3 linked regions of the Homo sapiens genome follow. The protein of the gene in region 2 purifies or fractionates together with the protein of the main gene of each other region. This does not show direct contact. Each region holds a gene or a part of one and is shown on either strand. Other genes may lie near its edges.

Region 1 (7,399 bases), on a different chromosome or scaffold from region 2:
ATTGAAATAGGGAATACTGGCAGAGCTAGCAGATTTGGGTAGGGTAGGAATAGGGGGTGGGTAAGGAATGATGGTGTGAACAGAAAATAAATCTTGGGACTCCAAAATCACTAAGCTAAGAGAAAAGTCAGGCTGGGAACTATGTTAGGCAAACCTGCCTCCCGCTTTATTCCTAAATAAGACAGCTACAAGGATGAGAAGCTACATCCCTCCCTCACAATTTGCCCTCAGAAAATTCCTTTGTGGATAAAGGACAGACAGGACTCAAAGTCATCCCTCTGAGGCTCACCTGACACAAATGGATTTCTGATTGCTTCCTCTGCCCTATTGTTTATGTAAACATGCAGATTCACTGAGCCAGACGAAATGTGTGCATTCAGTGGAAGGCTAATCAAGGACTCAAAATAATGCAACCTTTGTCTCTTATCTGCTTCTAACCTGGAAGCCCCCACTGTGAGTTGTCCCGCCTTACCAGACCCAACCAATGTACTTCTTACACATATTGATTGATGTCTCATGTCTCCCTAAAATGTATAAAAGCAAACTGTGTCCCCGACCACCTTGGGCACATATTGTCAGGGCTTCCTGAGGCTGTGTCACGGGTGAATCCTTAACCTTGGCAAAATAAACTTCCTAAATTGACTGAGACCTGTCTCAGATATCTGGGGTTCAAAACGGGTTCAATGTAGATCTTAAAACCTAATTATCTGTGGCTCATCTTCTATCTTAGATATAAGCAATAGGCCACATGTAAATATAAATGTGAAGTTCAAAAGCGAGCCTGGTTAGTATACAGGTAGTAGTTGAAGTTATAGGGGTGAAGACTGCCAAGGGAGGTGGTGTAGCAGGGACAGGGTACTACGTAATATCAGATAACATAAACATTTAATAATTGAAAAGGATATTGCTATATCACTAAAGGTTGGTAACAGCTGATGAGCCAATCTACATGTTCCCCACAGTGCCATGTGGCCCTACTTCAATACAATACCTAGAATAGTATCGTGCAACCAAAAAGAACACAAACATGTTTGATTGCTGTGAGGTTTAGAGACTAAGTAGACTTTTGACATTTGACCCAAGAAAGGTACTCAATAAAATAGCATCTATATGATTATCACTGTTAAGGCCGTCAAAAATGCGTCAAAATTACTTCAATAGAAGATAAAATAGGTGCCACTTGATTTTTGTTTGAAAAATAACTGACAGTAGTTGATAGTAATATTTAATATATACTAGGTAATATAAATATTTTAAATATATTAACTAATTTTCCCTTTCAAGAAGCCTCAAAGGTAGGTACTAGTATTATTTTATAGATGAAGAAGCTGGGCACAGAAATTTTAAGTAACTTGCATAGGGTCATAAGAGTAAATAAATGCTGGAGCTAGGATTCAAATACACACAATCTAGTTGCAAAGTACGTGAACTTCTGCCAAGTTCTATAGCCTCTTCACCACTACTTCAAGTCGTCAACTCCTGAATTTTTAAAAATGTTCAGTGCCTCTACAAGCTCATATAATTTTAAGGGGTTATAAGCCCTGAAGTTAGGGGTCCCAAGGACCCTAAATTAAGTACCACTGCTTCAAACAGAAACTTAAATACTTTGTCCTTGCAGAATTAAAGAAACTTCTTCTTAAAACTCAGTTATAATAACAATATTAGGCTTAGAACAACTCAGTCTACCATTATCTTTTTGCCCTACTTTAAAAGTATAGAAAATGATAGCTAATATTTATTGAGAACCAGGTATTATTTTTGTATAACCTCATCTAATCCCTATACCTCTATGAGATAGGTACTTCTATGCTCCCCACTTTATAGATAGGGAAACTGAGGTCAGAGTATTTAAATAACTTGTTCAGTAGCAAGCAACAATAACAGAAAAAACCAGCTGGGATGTACATTCCACAACCTTTCTCTTTGCTACCACGTTATGTTATCTCTCAAGATGTTTTATATGCAGATGAGGGATTCTGAGTACCACCCCATGCTAATTAATTACATTACATAACGAATGGAAAAGCACTCTGTAAATGATCAAGGATCAGTTATTATTTACTAGGTATCAATCATTAGAAACTTTAAAAAATGATAGTGATATAAAGACAAATAACTTCCAGAGGGTTTCCTCTAAAAGTACCGAGCTGCCACAAACTTTCCAGTTTGGAAACTCTATGTACTGAGGTCTTGTTTTCTTCACTTACACCACCTCCAAATCTACTCTGCTGTAACACAGGGATGTCAGTATACATTATTTTTCCTTTTATGATGCAAAAGGAACAGATTATTTCCCTTTTCCTTTCAGTCTCCTCAGCCCCAGATTGCTGTCCCTTCATTCTAATTACGCCGCAGCAACAGAGGCTTGCAATGGTCAGGAGTTCTGATACCGACCAGTTCTTCAGCCTGATTCTTCTGGCCTTTAAAAGAAAAAAACCCTCCCAGAACGAAGGGAAAAGTAAAGCATTCGTGTTCAGCAGCCAGACCAGAATTCCCTTGAGTAAGAGATCTGCAACACCCAACATCAAACACTGCATTTTCTTTAAGCCCGTCCACGGTCGGCTCCTTCAAGTCCAGGCCTCCCTATCGGCCCCGCGATCCCTCCCAGCGCGAGCGGAAGGCCCCTCCGCCCGGACTCCCAGGTGGCGCAGCCCTCCAGGCCCCGAGGTCCCCCGGCCCAGCCCTCGCCGCCAGTCTTCGGGATGCCAGGCTACCTGCCAGCCTCTCCTCTCACTCGGCGCAGGACTCGGATCCGTATGCTACCGCGATCCTACCATCCGCCCAACGCCTAGCACCCAGAGGGCACTCGCTAACCAACCGCGGCGCGGAGAAAAGCCGTGCTGCGAGGACACCTTCCGCCTCGCCCACCCGAGTCCCAGGCGCTGAAGTCTCTCCATCTTCTTTTATTCCATCGCCCCCCGGCCCAGCCCGCTCAGGTGTATTCCGCTTCCTTCCCCGCCCACCCACCGTCCCCACCTGGAGGTGGTCCGCCGCCGCTCCGCACGCCACTGCTCTGCAAACTGTCCTAGCAGCTGGGCAGCCAGCAAGCGGGCCGGGAGGCTGGAGCGGCCAGCCAATCAGCGACCGGCGCCATAAGCTGATATGACGGCAGATCGCGCGAAGGGCCTGCGCGCAGCTCTCCGCGGTCACGTGGGCGCCGCGCGCTCGGCCACGCCCCCTTTGTCCTCTGACTAAGGGGAGGGCGGGCGCCCCATCCGAGTACCTTTGCGGTGGAGGATGCGGTTTCGGGTTTTGCGTTTGTTTCTTTGCTTTCTTTTTAAACTAGCTCTTGTGTCATTCATGGTGGTACCAGGCAGGTTTACGGTGTTTATACAAACATTCCTAGAACGGGTGCCCTGCGTTGAGGGAAATAGACGACACTTCCTTTGACGCGAATGTCTGGGTCGTTTTCTCCCTCAAGGGAGGAGGTGCAGATGTTCCCAAACAGGTGCTCAAGGTTTTAAGACGTAGTCCCCCCGATTTTCTAGCGCTGAATGGCTGGAGGCTCCGCGAGCCGGTGTATGTAGGGGTCTAAATGGTGACAAGATGAGGGTAAACATGGACAGAAACCTTTTCACGATACAAGTTGTTGAAAACCAAGGTTAACGCAGATCTAATTGGCTTTGATTTGCTACACATGAATCGAGCAGCTCCGATTTCCTGAAACAGAGCTGAGCAGAGGAGGGTGGCTTCACAGGCAGAAGAGGACGGAGGAAAGCAGAAATAAGGAACCAAAAGATCTGTCGTTTCAGAGTGACTTTCCTTAAACAGAGATTAAAACAGAGGGGACTGACTTGTGATACCAGCTCAGCAACTTCAAAGTGGCAAACTGGGCCACTTTACCTATTACATAAATAATATGGGGAATACATGACAGAAATGAGGGATTTTTAAGGGAAAAAAATAACATGATTCGATCTGCCTTCAAAAGACTTTTCCGGTAGTTAAACTTCAAATGTACATAGGATACTGGACAAAGTTCAAATGAATTTAAAATAGTGTAGGTGGTTTTTTTAAAAAAGACTCATTATATAAATAAAAATAAATTTTAAAAAGTTTTGAGTGTCTACTTCGTTTAACACATCGTACTGAACACCGGGAATGGAAAGAGATGTTACAATAATGACAAAGACATGGTTCCCAACCTTAAAAAGCTTATGTGCTGTGGGAGAAATGGGCATGTATAAATAACTATGTTGCTTATTACAAGGACAGGAAATAAACAGTAATTGGTGGTATAGGCTGAGCACAGAGACAAAATGGCTATTCTGATGAGGGAAATTAGGGAAGGAACATTGTTTTGCCCAATGAAATGATTTGAATGGACACTTTAAAATGTTATTGAGCATAGATGATAAAACATTTATTAAACGAATAAAAGCTCAAAAGTGAAATGTTATAAGCAAACATCAAATATCCTGAATCTCTAGAATTTTATTGTTGAATATGCCTTAGCTATTACAAGTGGTCTTTATTCTTGGTGACTTAGGGATTCCCAAGAAATTTGCAATCACTCCTGACAACTCAAAGTAGTAATAAGTTAACCTCAAGAGAACAATCTTGTTTAAAAATAAATTTAAGTGTATTTTTTAATTATTATTTAAGTTCTGGGATACATGTGCAGAACGTGCAGGTTTGTTACATAGGTATACATGTGCCATGGTGGCTTGCTGCACCTTCCAACCCGTCATCTAGGTTTTAAGCCCTGCATGCATTAGTTATTTGTCCTAATGTTCTCCCTCCCCTTGCCCTCCACCCCCTGACAGGCCCCGGTGTGTGATGTTTCCCTCCCTGTGTCCATGTGTTCTCATTGTTCAACTCCCACAGTTGAACAACTCCCACATACTCAATGAGAATATGTGGTGTTTGGTTTTTTGTTCTGTGTTATTTTGCTGAGAATGATGGCTTCCGGCTTCATCCATGTCCCTGCAAAAGACATGAACTCATTCTTTTTTTTATGGCTGCATAGTATTCCGTGGTGTATAAGTGTATTAATAGCACATCCTGGGGTGCAGCATTCCTACATGTCTTTTCTATCCAGGCACACTGATGGATCAGGGTAATTTATTTATTCATTGTTTGCAAGGGTCTATGGTACCAACCAGCCAGTACCAAGGAATTCAGAGATAAGCCACAATACCTGCCTATGTGTCTGGATGGAACATGAACATGGAAACAAACCATTTAATCATTAAATTACTCAATTTATTTACTCAATAAATCATTATGTAATGGTGATAAGTGTCAGGCACTGTCATATGCACAGGAGATATACTGATAATCAAAACAAAGTCTGCTCTAATGAAGCTTACACACTAGTAAGGAGACAGAAAACTGATAATAAATAAATAGATATATAATACAATGTCGGACAGTGCTATGAAGAAAAAGAAAATGGGGTAAGAGAATCAAAATTAACGGAAGCTGTTAACTTCAGACAGCATGGTCAGTCAGTTTCTCTGAGAGGGCTACATTTGACCTGAACAGAGTTAGAAGTCCTCATTCACTTGGAAGATTCTAAACTGAGATTGAGTTTGAATTTTTTTCAATGAAATGTTGCCTTTCAATGCATCAATAATTTATCAGCCCACGTTCATTATATAACATTATACTTTAATGAGAACACTAAGCACTAAACTGTTTAAAGACCTTTGTCTTTACAAAGGTACTACAAAGGAAACTACAAAGACTGTAGTTTCTGAAGTTAGGAAATGAAGACCCTTTCTTTCTGCATTCGTCCGTTTGCATTGCTATAAAGGAATACCTGATACTGGGTAATTTACAAAGAAAAGAGGTTTATTTTGGCTCACAGTTTTGCAGGCTGTACAGGAAGTGTGGTGCTGGTATCTGGTTCTGGTGAGAGGACCTCAGGAAGCTTACAATCCTGGTGGAAGGCAAAGGGGGAGCAGGCCTATCGCATGAAGAGAGGGAGCAAGAGAGAGGGAGGAGGCTCTCTCTTTTAAACTCAGGCTCTTTTAAACAGCCAGATCTCATGTGAACTCATAGAGTGAGAACTCACTTTACTGTGAGGACAGCACCAGGACATTCATGAGGGATCTGCCCCCAACACCCAAACACCTCCCACTCAGTCCACCTCCAACATTGGAGGTCGCATTTCACCACGTGATTTGGAGGGGAGGAAACATCCAAATCATGTCACTTTCTAACTGGTTTTCAGATGTGTAAAACAGAACAGCCTTCTTAATGAAATGTTGTCACTGAATGCATCAGTAATGTATCAACCTCTCTTCATTACATCACACTGGACTGTACTAAGAACACTAGGCACCAAGCTATTTAGAGTGAATGTTTCTGATGAACTCGTTGGGCCACTGGCTCACAAGCATCTGTTTGCATGAATTTATTTTTTAGGGAGAAGAGAATCTTCATGAAAAAGGTGGATGCACAAGTGTCCAAAAGTAGATTACAGGAAGAGAAAGTGTTTATTCCTTAACCTGGCCCCATGGATTCTATTTTAATTTATAGTATGATACTTTAAACTACAAATAAAATCTTAAACCCCCCAGCAGACTGAACAGACCACCTCTTGGCCAAAGGGATTCCAGAAAAGCCTTAAAAACTTAGTTCCCAGCCATGATGAGATGAGGTCAGACAGGCCTCATTATACCCCCTCCCTTTTTAGACACGACTGACCGGCATTGATGTTAAAACAGAAATCATAAAACTGGCAGAACAGATTCTTTGTGGCGATACAATACCAAATTATAAATAGGACCTAAGGTCGTGCCAGGCGAGGGTTAAGTCATGTACCCTACACGTAAAGAATAAACTATGTTCTAACTGTCACAAGATTTTTCTTTTTCTCTAGCAGCTAAACAAACACTGGCCTTCAGATAAGCAATATTAAAACAATTTGCAGCTCCACCAGACGCTAACTGACCCCCTATTCCACAAGCCACAACTACGGCTTTCATTGGATAAAGACTGGTTTTAATAACTTTCTCCTGATAAGAATACCACTGACCCATGGGCTGGTTCTGATCAGTTTACAGAAGTTGCACATCTATATGCCTTCATGTCCTGAAAAAACATTTTGACATATAGGGCCTAATTGTAATATATTTAAATGTTAACTCTCCATCCTAAAGTGAACATGGTCATATGTTACATGCATGTTTGTTCAATATGCATGTCAGGATCAGCTTCATGAATATTCATAGCTCCTCCTGTAAAACATGCATGTTTAGCCAACCTGTTCAGCATAAAGCTCCTACTCCAGCCCCTCCTTCTTCAAAGTGCCTATCTCTGGTCTCGGCTGGAGGCACACTTCCCAGCCTGTGGGTTGGTCACCTTGCAGGCTGCAACACTTTATAAGAAATAAATTCTTCTCTCCTTTCTTAAATTTATAAATTGTATAATTTTTAAGTTAACAGTACTT
Region 2 (7,022 bases):
GCCAGACTCCCTGCACTCATCAAGTCTCTGGATCTGTGTTCATGCAGCTCTCCCTGCCTAAAATCTCTCTCATGTCTAGCCAACTGCTCCTATAAGCAACTGAAGGCCAATTCACCCTTTGAACCCAGCTCGAATATATGCTTCCTTCTCGAAGCACTATTTCCTGGCTTCCCCAGTGAAAGCTACCTCCACTTCACTCCTGCAGTACTTTGCACACTAAATGTATCAAGCAGGCATAAGTGGGAGGGTATTTAACAATAAGCACTTGGTAAAAATGGCCCAGTAGTCACTTACTGTTCTGAATGGATGATGAATGGAATCATCATGGGTGACTGTGACCTGTGAGCAAAATTTGCCCCAAGCAACCAACATTAAAGCCAACCTTCTGGCTAGATGGGCCTCCACTCTGTCTGTTTACTCACCTGTCTCCCACTCAACAGGAGCTCCCTGTATCCCATGCTCCTAGCACACAGTTAGTGCTCAGTAAATGCTTGTGAAGTGAACAGAGGCTCCTTTAAACAAATCCTTTTTGAGTTTCAGTTTTCCCATCTGAAAAATGGGAGTGTAGTCTAACTTAGGGTGACAAATGATTATCTCAGATGGCCACTGTCATTCGTTGTTTTAAGATGAAGATGGTAGATTGTCTTTAAAGATAGACTCTAACATCCCACCCTGCCCCAATACTCACATGTCACGCCTCCCATCAAGAAGTGGACTCTATTTCTCCTCCCCTTGAATCTGCACTGGCATGGTGAGTTGCTGTGACCAACAGAAAGTGGTAGAAGTGATGCTGTGCTAGTCCCAGCCTAGATCTCTAGATGCCATCAGCTTCTGCTATCATTGTTGCAGAGCCCTGAGCCTCCTGGTAGAAAAATCCAAGCAGTTCTGCTGGAGAGATGGGCTACAGAGAGAGAGAAAGAGAGAAACAGAGCACACAAGTTCCAGGATGTGAGATCATCTTATATATCCCAGCCCCAGTCAAGCTCCCAGCTGAATGCAGCCCATGAGTAACGCAGCCAACACTATGTGGAGCAGAGATGCACTGTCCCTGCAGAACTCTGCTAAGTTGCATAATTATAAATGAATAAGTCAGTTCAAGCCACTAAATTTGGGGGTGTTTGATCCACAAAGATAAATGACAAAGACATCTGGGTTCAACTAGAGGAAAAGTCATGACTGATGTGTGATGTCTGCCACAGCACATGGTGAGGGGTGTGGACTTCCATCCCTGGACTAGATCATGTCAAGGTCAGTGCCAATTCAATTCAATGCCAATTCGTGATTCTTCTGGGACCTTCTAGAAATGCAAGTTCCAGATTCAGAGGGAATCCATCCACCATCAGAGAGAACCCCAGCAGGGATCCAGTGGGGACCCTGGAAGGATTACATGAACCAATGAGGTAGCCCCTCTTGGGGCATATAAACAGTGACTTGGAAATAAAGTAGAGCAGTTGGTAGCAGGACTGGGAGCAGAAGGAGGTAGACATAGGAGACACTGAGCCCCATTGATAGTAGAACAGCTGAATGGGGGCTGCAGGCTCCTGCAGCCTAGGGGACAAAGATAATCCAGCCCTCAAGCCAACACATATCCCAAGAGCCTTCCAGGTCAAACACAAGGCTGGCTGGGCAGCTGGCACCTTCTCCCCTCCTAGTTAGCATCCACATCCTCAAAAATGAACCTCCTCTCTTACAGGGGGGAAGAGAAGGAGCCCTTGTGCTCCTTGCAGCCCATGAGCCAGACAAGCATGTCTCCCTAGCATGGGGCAGAGACAGAAAGGTTCTCATAACTAGAAATCACCAGTACCTGGGATGGAGAGACTCAAGCTGGGAAGTTAAACTCCTGGGGGATCATTCATTCCTGTTGAGCCTCCTACCAGGTGCCAGACACTTAACTCTTACTATCTCCTTCCATCCTAACTACTACCCTATGTACAACATGCCGCCATCCCCATTTCACAGATGGGAGAACCCCCTCGTTCAGAGTCAGCAGGTTCATAAGTGCAGGGACGTGAACGCAGTCTAAATGATGCCAAAGTCTGGTTCCTGGTTCGGTCCTGATAATCACTGAATACTCCCTGGTAAAGCCTCACTGGTTGCTACACTTGCATCCATTCTAATTGGTCAATACTCTGCTGAACCAACTGTCAATAGATGGCCACCTGAACTCCCAATATCTAAATTCGAAATTCAAGAAACAATCAGATGCAGACCAATGTCACTGTTAGACAGAATAACAGATCCCCAAAGATGTCCACATCCTAATCCCCAGAACCTGTAAATATGTCATCCTACATGGCAAAAGACACTTTGCAGACGTCATTAGGAATCTTGAGATGGTGGGATTATGCTGGATTACCCAGGTGAGCTCAGCGTCTTTAAAAATGAGACAGAGAGGCAGGAGAGTCAAAGTGATTTGATGTGACGAGGACTCAACCTGCGGTTGCTGGCTTTGAAGGCTGGGGAAGGGGACCATGAGTCAAGGAATGTGGCAGCCTCTAGAAGCTGGAAAAGGAGGGCAAACAGATTCTCCCCTAGGGCCTCCGGAAGAGATGCAATCTTTGATTTTAGCCCAGTGAAACCCATTTGGGACTTCTGACCTCCAGAACTAATAAGATAATAAGTTTGTGTTGTTTTAAGCCATTCGGTTTATGGTTATTGTTATAGCAGTAACAGGAAACATATACACTTGCTACCTGAATTCTTACTTCATATAACACTCAGGAATTCATAGATTCTGATAACTGTTCAAACCAATTCAGGTAACAAAGGATGGGCATTTGAGTGTCCCCTGCCCTTATTCCCCACCCCAAGTCATTTACTGAGCACCTACTCCAGGCCAAAGAACATGGCAGACACTCTCTCAACAACCCTGGGCAGGAGGAAACTGAGGCCTAAAGAGGTTATATGTATGTGACTTGCACATGCTCACAAAAACAATAGGTGGCCGGGCTCACCGCAAAAACATGCGGTGGCTCATGCCTGCAATCCTAGCACTTTGGGAGGCCAAGGCAGGTGAATCACTTGAGTCCAGGAGTTCAAGACCAGCTTGGGCAATGTGGTGAGACCCTGTGTGATGGTTAATACTGAGTGTCAACTTGATTGGATTAAAATATAATAAGTATTAATCCTGCATGTGTCTGTGTGGGTGTTGCCAAAAGAGATTAACATTTGAGTCAGTGGGCTGGGGAAGGCAGATCCACCCTTACTCCGGTGGGCACAATCTAATTAGCTTCCAGAGACTATAAAGCAGGCAGAAAAACCTGAAAAGGAGAGACCGGCCTAGCCTCCCAGCCTACATCTTTCTACCATGCTGGATGCTTCTTGCCCTCGAACATCGGATTCCAAGTTCTCCAGTTTTGGGACTCAGACTGATTCTCCTTGCAGATGGCCTATTGTGTGACCTTGTGATCATGTAAATTAATACTTAATAAGCTCCCCCTTTTTATATGTAGAGAGTGAACCGTAAGAGAACCCTCTAAGAGAACCCTGACTAATACATCCTGTCTCTACAAAAAATACAAAAACTAGCCAGACATGGTAATGCATGCCTATAGTCCCACCTACTCAGGAGGTGGGAGGATTACTTAAGCCCCAGAGGTCGAGGCTGCAAATGAGCTGTGATCATGTCACTACACTCCAGCCTGGGTGACAGAATGAGATTTTGTCTCAAAAAATAAAAAATAAATCAATAGGTGTCAAACCCAGGATTAGAACTCACATCTGCCAGACCACAGGGCCTGCCCTCTTCTCACTACACCACACCCTCTCTCCATTGACTTCCTGTTTCTCTGACCCCTGATTTCCAGGAGGAAAAACCAAGTGTGCTCACTGTTGTTTTTTGTACCCATCTCCCCACCCACCCACCTCCTTGCACAAGAGCTGCCCTCAGCAGGAACCCAGGGCTGGAATCTGAGGACCCATGTCCTATACCCCAAGAAAGCAGAACCGATTCTGACATTCTGCCTGGATAGCAGCTGACCTCCCTGCTGAGTCAGCCGCTGGTACTTCCAACATTGCCAGAGACTGTCTATGGTGAAGACAGTGAGGCCCAGGGCACTCTCCACCAGCAGAGCCCAAGACCTCTCCTTGGGGCCAGACATGGAGGCAAGAGACTAGCCCAAATGACATTTTCCAGTCTGGGAACCCAAGATCACAAGGCACCAGACACCCAGATGTGCAAAGGCCAATTTCAAAGCTCACTGTCCCAAAAATAAAAATAGAAATGCCTTCACTGAACTGACCACGTGCTGTACTCAGTGCTTGATGGATATGGACTCATTTAATCTCACCATAACCCTGACAGGCAGGTACTCATAGCATGCCCACCTTATGAATGAGGAAGCTGAGGGGCTCAGGAGGTTAAAGTTCAGAGCTGGGATCTCAACTCTGGAGCACTTGGATCTGGGATCTATCATCACCACAGTGTGCTACCAGCCAACGTCACCCAGACGTCAACATTTCTTTCTCTGATAGCACCACGTAGAATTACTGCCTCTTGATTCCATCTGACAGTGCAAGGATTTCTACTTTTTCTCATTCATACCTGTGTCCATTGCTGCAAAAATCTAGAGGTTCTAAAAAGAAATAACTGGTTTCGTGCTATCGCCTGAAACCAGCATGTCCTGAGTCCGGCGGCAGCTCAAAGTGGCTGCCAATAACAGGGGCTCCTCACTGCATCTCAGTCCTGGCCTACGGCCACCTCCTCAGCAGGGGCTATGGAAAAAGTGCTGGGCTGGAAGCCAGGTGTTTCAAGTCCTAATCTGGCCAAATGATCTTGGGAATGTCACGTAACCAATCAGGGCCTCACTTTCCTCATCTCTCAAATGGGTTCCACAAGGATAGGAATCCTGTCTTTCCATCGTTCTTGCCCTGTGGAGAGCCAGACGTGTAGTAGATGCTAATAAATGTTTGTTGAGTGAATTAATAAAAGTATATGTTACAAGTTTGTCTCTCCTCCCCTGAGGGCCTCAAAGACAGGAAGCAGGTCTGATTCATCTCATTTTCTCACAGTGCTGCAGCTGTTACTCCCACATGCATTTATTCACACAGGAAAGTGCTCCCAGGCACCCACTATGTGGCCAGCCCAGTTGAAGCCTCAGTGTCTTCCAGGACCACACAACACCCTCATGCACTGTCCCTTCTCTTTTACACAGCCAGTGGCTGTAATACTTGGTCACACTGTACTTCTTCACCCCAGGACCTAGGACAACCACCCAGCTGCCTTACAGTCAGCAGCCTTGGCCCATTCTGGGGAGTTTGAGCATGATTCCTGAGCTTTCACTTCCCTCATGCCCAGCCCTGGGGGAGCCCAGCCCAAGGAAAATCCCGACTCTAACCACACCATGTACACGTACATGAACACCAACATTCAAATGTGCAGTGGGGCCCTAGGACAGGAATAAGATGTTTTTCGTTCAAATCCCATTCTTTTGCTATGAGCTGTGTGACCTTAGGCAAGTCCCTTTAGCTCTCTGAGCCTCATTTTATTCACCTATAAAATGGGGATGATAGTCCTGAGGCCTTTCCATGTAGGCTTGTAGGGAGATTCAAGTAGATAATGGATATAAATACCTTTGGCTTAATAACCCGCAGCATGTTCTATCAAACCATTATTCTTATTTCCTTTTTCCAGGGGGAAAAGAGAATGGCAGTTGCCTATGTTTCAGAAAAATCCATGTTTAGGGGCCTGGAGTCTGGAAATTTACTTAGTATATTTGATGGGAATTACCTTGAGGATAGGTGATGTTGTGAGTCCAACATCACCATGTTAACTAAGATTGACTAATGGAAATGTAGACTTAGAATCAAAGAATGGAAGCAACCCAAGAGGTCACCACATTTGTGACAGAGACAGGTAGCTGTCCACAAAAATTCATTCTCCCTGTCCACAATACACGACTGTGGCTGGGAAAGAGCTGCTCTTTGCCAAGAACCTCATATCCTTGTAACTCCATGTCCTGGCCTCCTTTGCAACTAGATTGGCCACATGATAGTTCTCATGTGAGTGGAAGTCATGTCTGCTGCTTCCAGGCCAAAGCAGATAAGCAAATATGCCACCTCCATACTTTCTTTTGTCTTGTGCACCTGGCTGCAGACAATGAGGATATCTGAGGAGAGAGTGGGACCACCAGATGAGTCACTGAAGTACCATGAGGAAGAGGACCACCCTCCATTCAGAAATACTTGCCTTATAATAAAGCTCTGCTTTGCTTCAGCCCTTATGCCTTTGGGGACCTATTTGTTACTGCAGCTACTACCCTAGCTGATATACCATTCGACCTCCTTATTTACAGATGAAATTATTGTGGCCAAAGAGTAAGAGTGCCTTGCCAAGGTCACACAGTAAGCTCAACAAATGTCTAGAACTTTGGTCTCTTAACTCCTTGGAGTAGAGGAGTTGCAGTTTCCTGCCTGCCCCATGGAGCTACAAAGATTCTTAGAGGCCCTTCAGCAACAAGAGTGAGATTTAGTGGCAGCCTGGAGTCTTCCACCTCTGTTTCAACAAGAATAACACCACCTTTATCTGTTTTCAAATTACACTTCCCCATAAGACTTTCATTTGTGGAAAGGATTCTGCAACTGAAAATAATTTCAAAGCCTCCATGCTGGGGGATTGCTAACACGATCTGACTTTCTGTGGTACTATAAGACAAAGTTTCGCTTCTTCTCTGCCAAACCTTCTGGCCTCAACTGCTGACACGGAACATGTGGATTCACAGAAGTACATGAATATTTGCTTAGAAGGGAAAAAAGAAACCTTATTGTGCAGCAAAGAACCCAAGACCCCAGTGTGAACAAAGGGCAAAAAGGAAAGACTTTTAAGCACTCTAGGTTGGTAGTTCTCAAGTTTTGGGGTGCATCTGAATGACCTGGGGTGCTGGTTCAACATGCAGACACTGAAGCCTCATCCACAGAGATTCTGATTTCCAAACTGAAGCTTTAAGAAACACTCACAATTGGCCGGGCGCAGTGGCTCACGCCTGTAATCCCAGCACTTTTGGAGGCCGAGGTGGGTGGATCAC
Region 3 (7,710 bases), on a different chromosome or scaffold from region 2:
AACAATGAAATATAAACACTTCAAAATACGCAGTTAGGGCTGGGCATAGAGACTCATGCCTGTAATCCCAGCTACTCGGGAGGCTGAGGCAGGAGAATCGCTTGAACCTGGGAGGTGGAGGTTGCAGTAAGCCAAGATCGTACCACTGCACTCCAGTCTGGGTGACAGAGTGAGACACCATCTTAAAAAAAATGCAGTTGGTTTAACTTGGCAAAACACCACTAGATCAAACTACACGAGAAAAAAAGACTGGACCTAATAAAAGAATAAAACAGCAAACAGGCTGTCAAGCTATTCCAAAAGACAAGGGTTACTAGGTTACCCAGTAAACCAATCTCACAAGGCCAGTGTCAGAGTAGATTTGATCTAAATCAAATATAAGTCACTGGTCAGGAGACTGATTACATATTCATGGATACAGTATATATTCTTCAGAGAAATTCTACCTGCTGTTTTCACTCCCACTAGAATGTAAGCTCGATGAGGGAAGAACATTTTTCTATTACTTCCCCACAGTCTATGCAATAAGTAATAATTACTCACTAAACAATTGAAAAGAATAAAATTATCCAACTATGACTTAAAATTTTGCACTTCCGTGAAGACAGTATGCATAGAATCACACATCTATCATCAGGATTTTTATCCCTCATCTAGAAATAAAGCTGCCCACGATCAATCGTTCTCTAAATTAAAGCCGGTTTCAGAACTAAAAGGAAGCTTTTACTGAACACACAATGGGATACTTTAGATTCAGATACAGTCATTTTTCCACTAGACAAACTAGTTTTGTTCTACATAATCCCTATTTCTTGATAATATCTGAGCTTCCTCTTCCAAAGCAGTAAAATACTCCTTTTGTAAATAAAGGATCTACTAAATATATTCCTTCACAGCCAACGGCCTGACAAACCTAGGTCATGTTTGCAGTAAACATTTAACAAGCACACAAGAGTAAAACCTCTTTAATCTACACAGAACAGATTAAAACCACCATGCAGGGAATCAACCCCAACATAATCACAGTCATTCACTACATAACATTTCAGTAAATGAAAGACTACATATACAACGGGGGTCCCATAAAATTGTAATATCGTATTTGTACTCTACTTTCCTATGTTTAGATATACAAAAACTTACCATTGTGTTACAACCACCTATAGCATTCAGTACAGTAACATGTTATACAGGTTTATAGCCTAGGAGCAATAGGCTGTACCATACAAACTAGGCGTGTAGTGCCATCCAGTTTTAAGTATACTCTATGATGTTTGCATAATGACAAAATCACCTAAGGATGCTTTTCTCAGAAAGTATCAACTGTAAATGTAATTCGACTGAGATGTGACTGAATATTCAATGTAGTATATACAGCATATATATTAATATATACATTATATATACTAATATATAATGTCTACATAGTGTATATATGCAATGTAAACACCAGAAAAACAAGAGAAGAAAATAAAGTTCACACGAGTACTTTGAAGATGATTCAGTAAAAGGACCTTAGTAATACTAAAAATATTTATACCTAGATAATGCCAGACTATTAGATTTCAGAACTTATAAAATAGGTAATTTAAAACATTACCTATAAATTTTTAAAATTCAAATTAAAACTTCATGAAATTCAAAAACTCACACTTCAGGAAGATAGTGGTATTTCTGAAGAGGATCTTTCCAAAACTAAAATAATTTTTCCCCTGCAAACATAAAGGAAAGATAATTAGCCTCAGATGGCTTCAATTACCAAAGCATCATATAACTATCTAAGACTGCTAGAAATTCCAACTTAACTTAAATCTTTATGGGACGTACCCCTTAATCAGTTCATTCCCTTTACTCACCAATCACTGCTCAGAATAACCAATCATTTTTTCTAATGAACTATTCTGTGTGCAAATAACCAGAGTTTTATTTTCAAATCTAAAAAGACTTAACTATTAACCATTTTAGTAACAAGTAAAAACCTAACTGAACACCTGAAAATCTTCACCACTGAACAAAAGGTATAACGTTTACCATAATAAAAGCCCAAATAAGATTTGGACATTACAGTCAGTGAGCAGAGCAGAATGAAACAAAAAGGCCAACGTAGGTTTAATGGGGCTAATGCTTTTCAGCATTTCCTCCCTGCATCTGGTTTTTGTCTGCTCACAGGACTATACCTGTTACTGAAATAAGGTTTAAAATGGGTAAGGGGCAGAAAGGGTCAACCCATGTAGTTAATTATCCAAATGAAAGACTAGCCTTACCACATTAAATTTTAAGTACTATTTCTTCAATTTTAACCATTCCCATGTTAAAACACATTTCTTAAATCTCTATGCTTTCTAGTCACACAGTAAAGCTTAGAATAGCCATTCCAAAGTTGAAGCGAAGTCGAACCATCTCGTAAGCAGAATTACCCAGGGACCAAGAAGTGCAGAGGAAGAAAAAGAAAGAAAGAAATGAAGACTCCTATTTACATATCTTTCTTATCCAACCCGGGGACACTGGATTCTGTGAAACATCTGAAAGATAAACAACTCTCCGTTTGTACATCAAGTTTACATCTCAAGTCAGGCACTGAAAGTTCTGTTTTTCTGATGAGAAGCCGCTCCACCACTCCTTTCTGTTGCTGAAGTGGCCCTTACATTCCCGCTAGCCTAATCACAGAAGTGCGCGGCTTTCCACTCCAGGGAGGTGGGTCCCAGTTGGCTAGCCACACAGACCATCCCAGCAACCCCACCCCTTTTGAAGAGACTTTTGCGGAACCTTCATGGACCCCTTGGGCCGCCGTAGCCCCACCCCTTGCTCCTCTAGGTTCAGACGTTAGTGAAGTGAATACTCACCGACGGTATCGGAATGTGCCATTTGGACCGGTCGGCAGCAGCTACGGTTGCCGGTCCCGCACTGAAAAACGACAGTGGTGACGGGTGAGCTCCCAGAAGCAGAAGAATGACAGGCAACACCTGAAGCCACGCAGCCGCCGCCATCTTCACAGCCGTGGAGTGCCTACCGAAAGCATTTCACCCTCTTCCGGTTCGTCCCGCCTTCTTCCGGCTCTGCTCTAAGGGCGGGATTATCCGGGTCCTGGAAACGTCGCGGAGCTTGTTTGCTGTGCGGCGTAGCGGCCCCTCTCTCAGACAGTCGTCTGTGCGCCGTGAGACTTTGGACCTACTGCGCAGGCGTCATCCTGTTGGAACCTGGTCAGCTGGGTTAGAGAGATCGCTACATGCCAGCCTGGCCTGAGTCTTTTCTGTCTCCCAGCCGTTAAAGGTTTTAGGACCAGGCAGGCACCCCGTGCAGGATTTGGCTCTCTACTTCCGCTCGCCCCAGCCCTTCATCCCTTCTAAGTCAATGTCAGACTTTGGGGCCAGAAAGTCTGGAAAAGCCCTAAGCCTGGCTGCCCAAGTGGCGTCTAGTAGTGAGTTCTCCGGTTTGGGTGGTATTTAAGCAAAGGCTGGAATTCGGCGGTGGTGGAGTACACGCGATTCCTAGACTGGGTAGTGTAACAACCTTCAAAGGCCCCTTCTAGCCCTGAAGAGTACGATGCTGCAGTACAATCTGGCTGGAGACCTAGCCTCCAGCAAAGACCCGGCCGGCACTTCCCACCCTTAACCGAAAACGGAGACAGAGAGGGTCAGTTTTCAAAATCTGTGGCGTGACCCCGCCACTGAGATAGATCTGCAGATGCTTCGTCCCAGTCAGGGAGGCCGTCTCGGCATTTCCAGGTTCTTAACGCTCTTGATTTTTACCCTCTAGGACTCATTGCGTACACGCCCTCACCGCCGCCCAGTTTCGGTTCCTAACAAAAGCACGTTCCTCATCAGCCACCCATAATCAAGACAAATTTGCCAAATAAATCATTGTAGAAACGCTAGTTTGGGCCTGAAAAATTCCAGGAGCAAGAGTCAAGATTTGTCACTCCATGAGAATCTGGAGGGGACTCCCTTCCCAGAAACTTGACGATGAAGTACTGGTTGTAATTTTAGAAAGACACCCAATCGGCTTTTTTAAAAGATCGCCCAGGGCCCTTGTCCTGAGAGCTGGGAGCTGGTCGGAGTGACAGAGAAGCCATGGAAGCAGCAGTGAAAGAGGAAATAAGGTAAAGGCCAAGTGCTTCTGTAGCGAGTGACCCCAGGGTCCCTAGAAACAGGGAATAGTGTTTTAATTGCATTTCTTATTTGCGTATTTGGTATTTGCTGACCTTTATCTTTTCTCTCAATTCGCGGGAAGTTAGTTGATATTAATAGCCTCTCATAAAATACTTTCAGGATGGTTAAATAGGCCGGGTGCAGTGGCTCACGCAGGTAATCCCACAGCACTTTGGGAGGCTAAGGTGGGAGGATCGCTTGAGTTCAGGAGTTCGAGACCCCCTCCCCGCCCCCTCGGAGTCCCAGCTACTTGGGAGACCACTGGGAGGATGGATTTGGAGGCTGCAGTGGAGCTGTGATCTTGCCACTGCTTGGGCAACAAAGTGAGACCCTGTCTCCAAAAAAAAAGGATGGTTAAATAACATTAACAGTGGAAAAGTTGCAATCAGAACTCTTAACACGTGAATTTCAGGCATGTTGCTTTCCAAATTCATCTATAATCACCCCTTCCTATATCATCCCAGAGTTAATTCTTCGAAGCTGTAAAGAGGAAACAAAAGATTCTCCAATCTTTGTACACTTGATTAAAATAAACTGGGCCGGTTCGCTCATGCCTGTAATCCCAGCACTTTGGGAGGCCTATAGGTGGGCAGATTGCTTGAACCCAGGAGTTCAGACCAGCCTGGGCAACATGCTGAATCCCTGTCTCTACAAAAATTTTAAAGTTAGCCAGACGTGGTGATGTGGGCCTGTAGTCCCAGCTACTCAGGAGGCTGAGGCAGGAAGATAGCCTGAGCCCAGGAGGCGGCAGTTGCAGCAAGCCAAGATCGTGCCACTTCACTCCAACGTAGGAGGCAGAGCGAGATCCTGTCTCAAAAAAAATTTTTTTAATAAATTAAAATAAACGGACAAAGACTGAGTTCAGTGAAGGACAAACAGTTTTTTAGTATGGCCAAGTATATCTGCCTGGGCTTGTTTTCATAATATTTCGACGTTTGTGTTCAGTCATAGCTTTCTACATAATCATGGACATGCTGACTACAGATGCATTCGGCCACACTAGTGCATGAAAGCCGGTGTAATTTTTTTTTCTCCTTATAATCTGTAGTTGTTTTAATCAGATGGAGGCTAGTTTAAATACATATACTCAAACTTCAATATACATATATCTCATTCATGTTTTATCCCAGAAACAGCTCTTCTGGAAACTTGGTTTTAAAAAACATGGCCCCTAGTTTGTCACCTCATCTTAAAAAGCAAGAAATTCCCCTTCTACGTCTGTTCTGTTCTTATTCTAGCACCTTGCACCTCTATTAAAGCATTTGTCAGCTTGTATTGTGATTGCTGGTAAAACCCTAACTGATAGCTTGAACACAGTTCATATCTTCCTCAGAGCCCAGCTCTCAGGAAGAATATTCTGAAAATATTTTCTTGAATAAATCGGTGGGTGGGTTATGGTTCTTAGTTTGTCTGGTTGGTTGGTTTTGGTTTGTTCGTTTTGGGATGCTGTTTTGGTTTTCCTCCTTCAGATTTTACTTTTGTGGTCATAGCCTTCAGTCATTATTTCAAAAGAATATGTCCTCATAAGTGACAGTGATCTTTTCCCATTACTTTTGGAGTAATCCCAGAACCTGATGTTTTGTTGTTTACCTCAGAGGGTTTACAAAAGGCTATTGTTCTGCAACATAATGTGCTATTATGTTATACTGTGGCCGTGACACAATTTTGCATTGCAGAATAGACTCCAAAGGTTTATTTTGCATGTTCATACTGTCGTTAGAGAAGGTACAAAAGTTGGATTCACAAGCCCTGTGTGAAATAAATTTCTCAAAATGTCTTTTTATTTAGTCTTGAAGATGAAGCTGTAGATAAAAACATTTTCAGAGACTGTAACAAGATCGCATTTTACAGGTAAGGAAAATAAATATAGTAGCTAGATCAAAACATCTCTGACAGTATTTCAAAATTGATGCTTATTAAATTTTTGGAACTGATAGACTTTCCAAGGAAAGGATAATTTAATAATTAAGGAAATCATCAGACAGGAGACTCACTTTTAACTTTATACATTTACTCCTGAAGTATTTAAATTTTTCAATAAACAGCTATTTTATTTTAAAAGCCAAAATATTTTTAAACTAGTTTTAAATTTTGACGCTTTGAATAGATAACACTTTTACATGGTTCAAAAATAATATAAAGAGCTATACATTGAAAAATGTTGCTTCCACTCCTGTCCCCTTCTACCCATTCCTCATCTTGTCCCGAATAACCGAATTTCTTCATTTCTTATTTATCCTTCCAGTATTTTTTTGTAAATACATGTATTTTTATATTATTGCTTTTCTCTTTTTTTAATCACCCCTTTTTATACCAAATAGGTTTTTTTTCCTGCTTTATAGTTTGTTCTGAGGAGAAATTCATATGAGTGCATGGAGATTGTTTCTCCTTTTTACAGCTGCATAATATTCCATGGGGTAGATATACTATTAATATAATTTATTCAGTCTGTCTCTTATTGCTAGACCCTTGGGTTGTTTTTAATCTTTTGCTAAAATAGCACTACCACAATGAAGAGCTATACATAGGTCATTTTCTACACATGCAGGTGTATTTATAGGATACCTTTCTAGGAGTGAGATTACTGGGTCAAAGAGTAAATGCATTTGAAATGTGTTAACTATTACCAGATTTCCCTCCATAGGAATTATACCATTTGTACTCCTATCAACATTATATAAGATTGCCTGGCTGGGCGAGGTGGCTCACACCTGTAATCCCAGCACTTCGGGAGGCCAAGGCAGGCGGATCACCTGAGGTTGGGAGTTTGAGACCAGCCTGACCAACATGCAGAAACCCCGTCTCTACTAAAAATACAAAATTAGCCAGGCATGGTGGCGCATGCCTGTAATCCCAGCTACTTGGGAGGCTGAGGCAGGAGAATTGCTTGAACCTGGGAGGCAGAGATTGTGGTGAGCCGAGATTGTGCCATTGCACTCCAGCCTGGGCAACAAGAGTGAAACTCCGTCTAAAAAAAAAAAAAGATTGCCTGTTTCTCCAGAGCTACAAAAAATATGCCTTTAAAATCTTCATTTTATTTTATTTTTATGCATTTTTTTGAGACGGAGTCTCCCTCTGTCACCCAGGCTGGAGTGCAGTGGCGCAATCACTGCCCACCACAACCTCCACCTCCTGGGTTCAAGCGATTCTTCTGCCTCAGCCTCCCGACTAGCTGGGATTACAGGCATGCACCACCACGCCCGGCTAATTTTTTGTATTTTTAGTAGAGAGGGGGTTTCACCATGTTGGTCAGGCTAGTCTTGAATTCCTGACCTCAGATGATCCATCCACCTCGGCCTCCCAAAGTACTGGGATTACAGGCGTGAGCCACCACGCCTGGCCATAATGTTCATTTGAAAAAAAAAAAAAAAAAAAAAACAGTCTTTACGTGATCTTGAAACTGAAATAATCAAAAATTGTATTATACAGTATAGCTTTCTAACATATTCCCTCTCTGTTTAATAGGAAGAAAAGCGTATTATGTTAATTCTGAACAGGTATCTAGAGGGAAGTCTACAGTGAATGCCTGGTAACCTTGTTAAACCACTAGATTATATTTAAT

What was found. The genes of interacting proteins can lie anywhere in the genome.
Region 1: the proteins of CMKLR1 (region 2) and SC5D purify together in Homo sapiens (co-immunoprecipitation; 2 studies listed by BioGRID and IntAct, with this or other methods). This does not show direct contact.
Region 3: the proteins of CMKLR1 (region 2) and TMEM87A purify together in Homo sapiens (co-immunoprecipitation; 2 studies listed by BioGRID and IntAct, with this or other methods). This does not show direct contact.

The regions. Positions count from the first base shown.
Region 1 is NC_000011.10:121,288,394-121,295,792, reverse strand, and holds the start of SC5D (lathosterol oxidase), read right to left. Parts: upstream 3,023-7,399; 5' UTR 2,977-3,022; intron 2,942-2,976; exon of another isoform or gene 2,715-2,941; intron 1-2,714. UniProt on the Homo sapiens protein: Catalyzes the penultimate step of the biosynthesis of cholesterol, the dehydrogenation of lathosterol into 7-dehydrocholesterol (7-DHC).
Region 2 is NC_000012.12:108,329,307-108,336,328, forward strand, and holds part of CMKLR1 (chemerin-like receptor 1), read right to left. Parts: intron 902-7,022; 5' UTR 689-901; intron 1-688. UniProt on the Homo sapiens protein: Receptor for the chemoattractant adipokine chemerin/RARRES2 and for the omega-3 fatty acid derived molecule resolvin E1.
Region 3 is NC_000015.10:42,270,412-42,278,121, forward strand, and holds the start of TMEM87A (transmembrane protein 87A isoform 1 precursor), read right to left. Parts: upstream 3,023-7,710; 5' UTR 2,988-3,022; coding exon 2,844-2,987; exon of another isoform or gene 2,790-2,843; intron 2,655-2,789; exon of another isoform or gene 2,478-2,654; intron 1,713-2,477; coding exon 1,652-1,712; intron 1-1,651. Other genes in the region: GANC (neutral alpha-glucosidase C), read left to right, coding at 4,071-4,099, 5,937-5,999. UniProt on the Homo sapiens protein: Potential monoatomic ion channel gated by mechanical force, implicated in normal touch sensitivity through the generation of mechanically activated currents.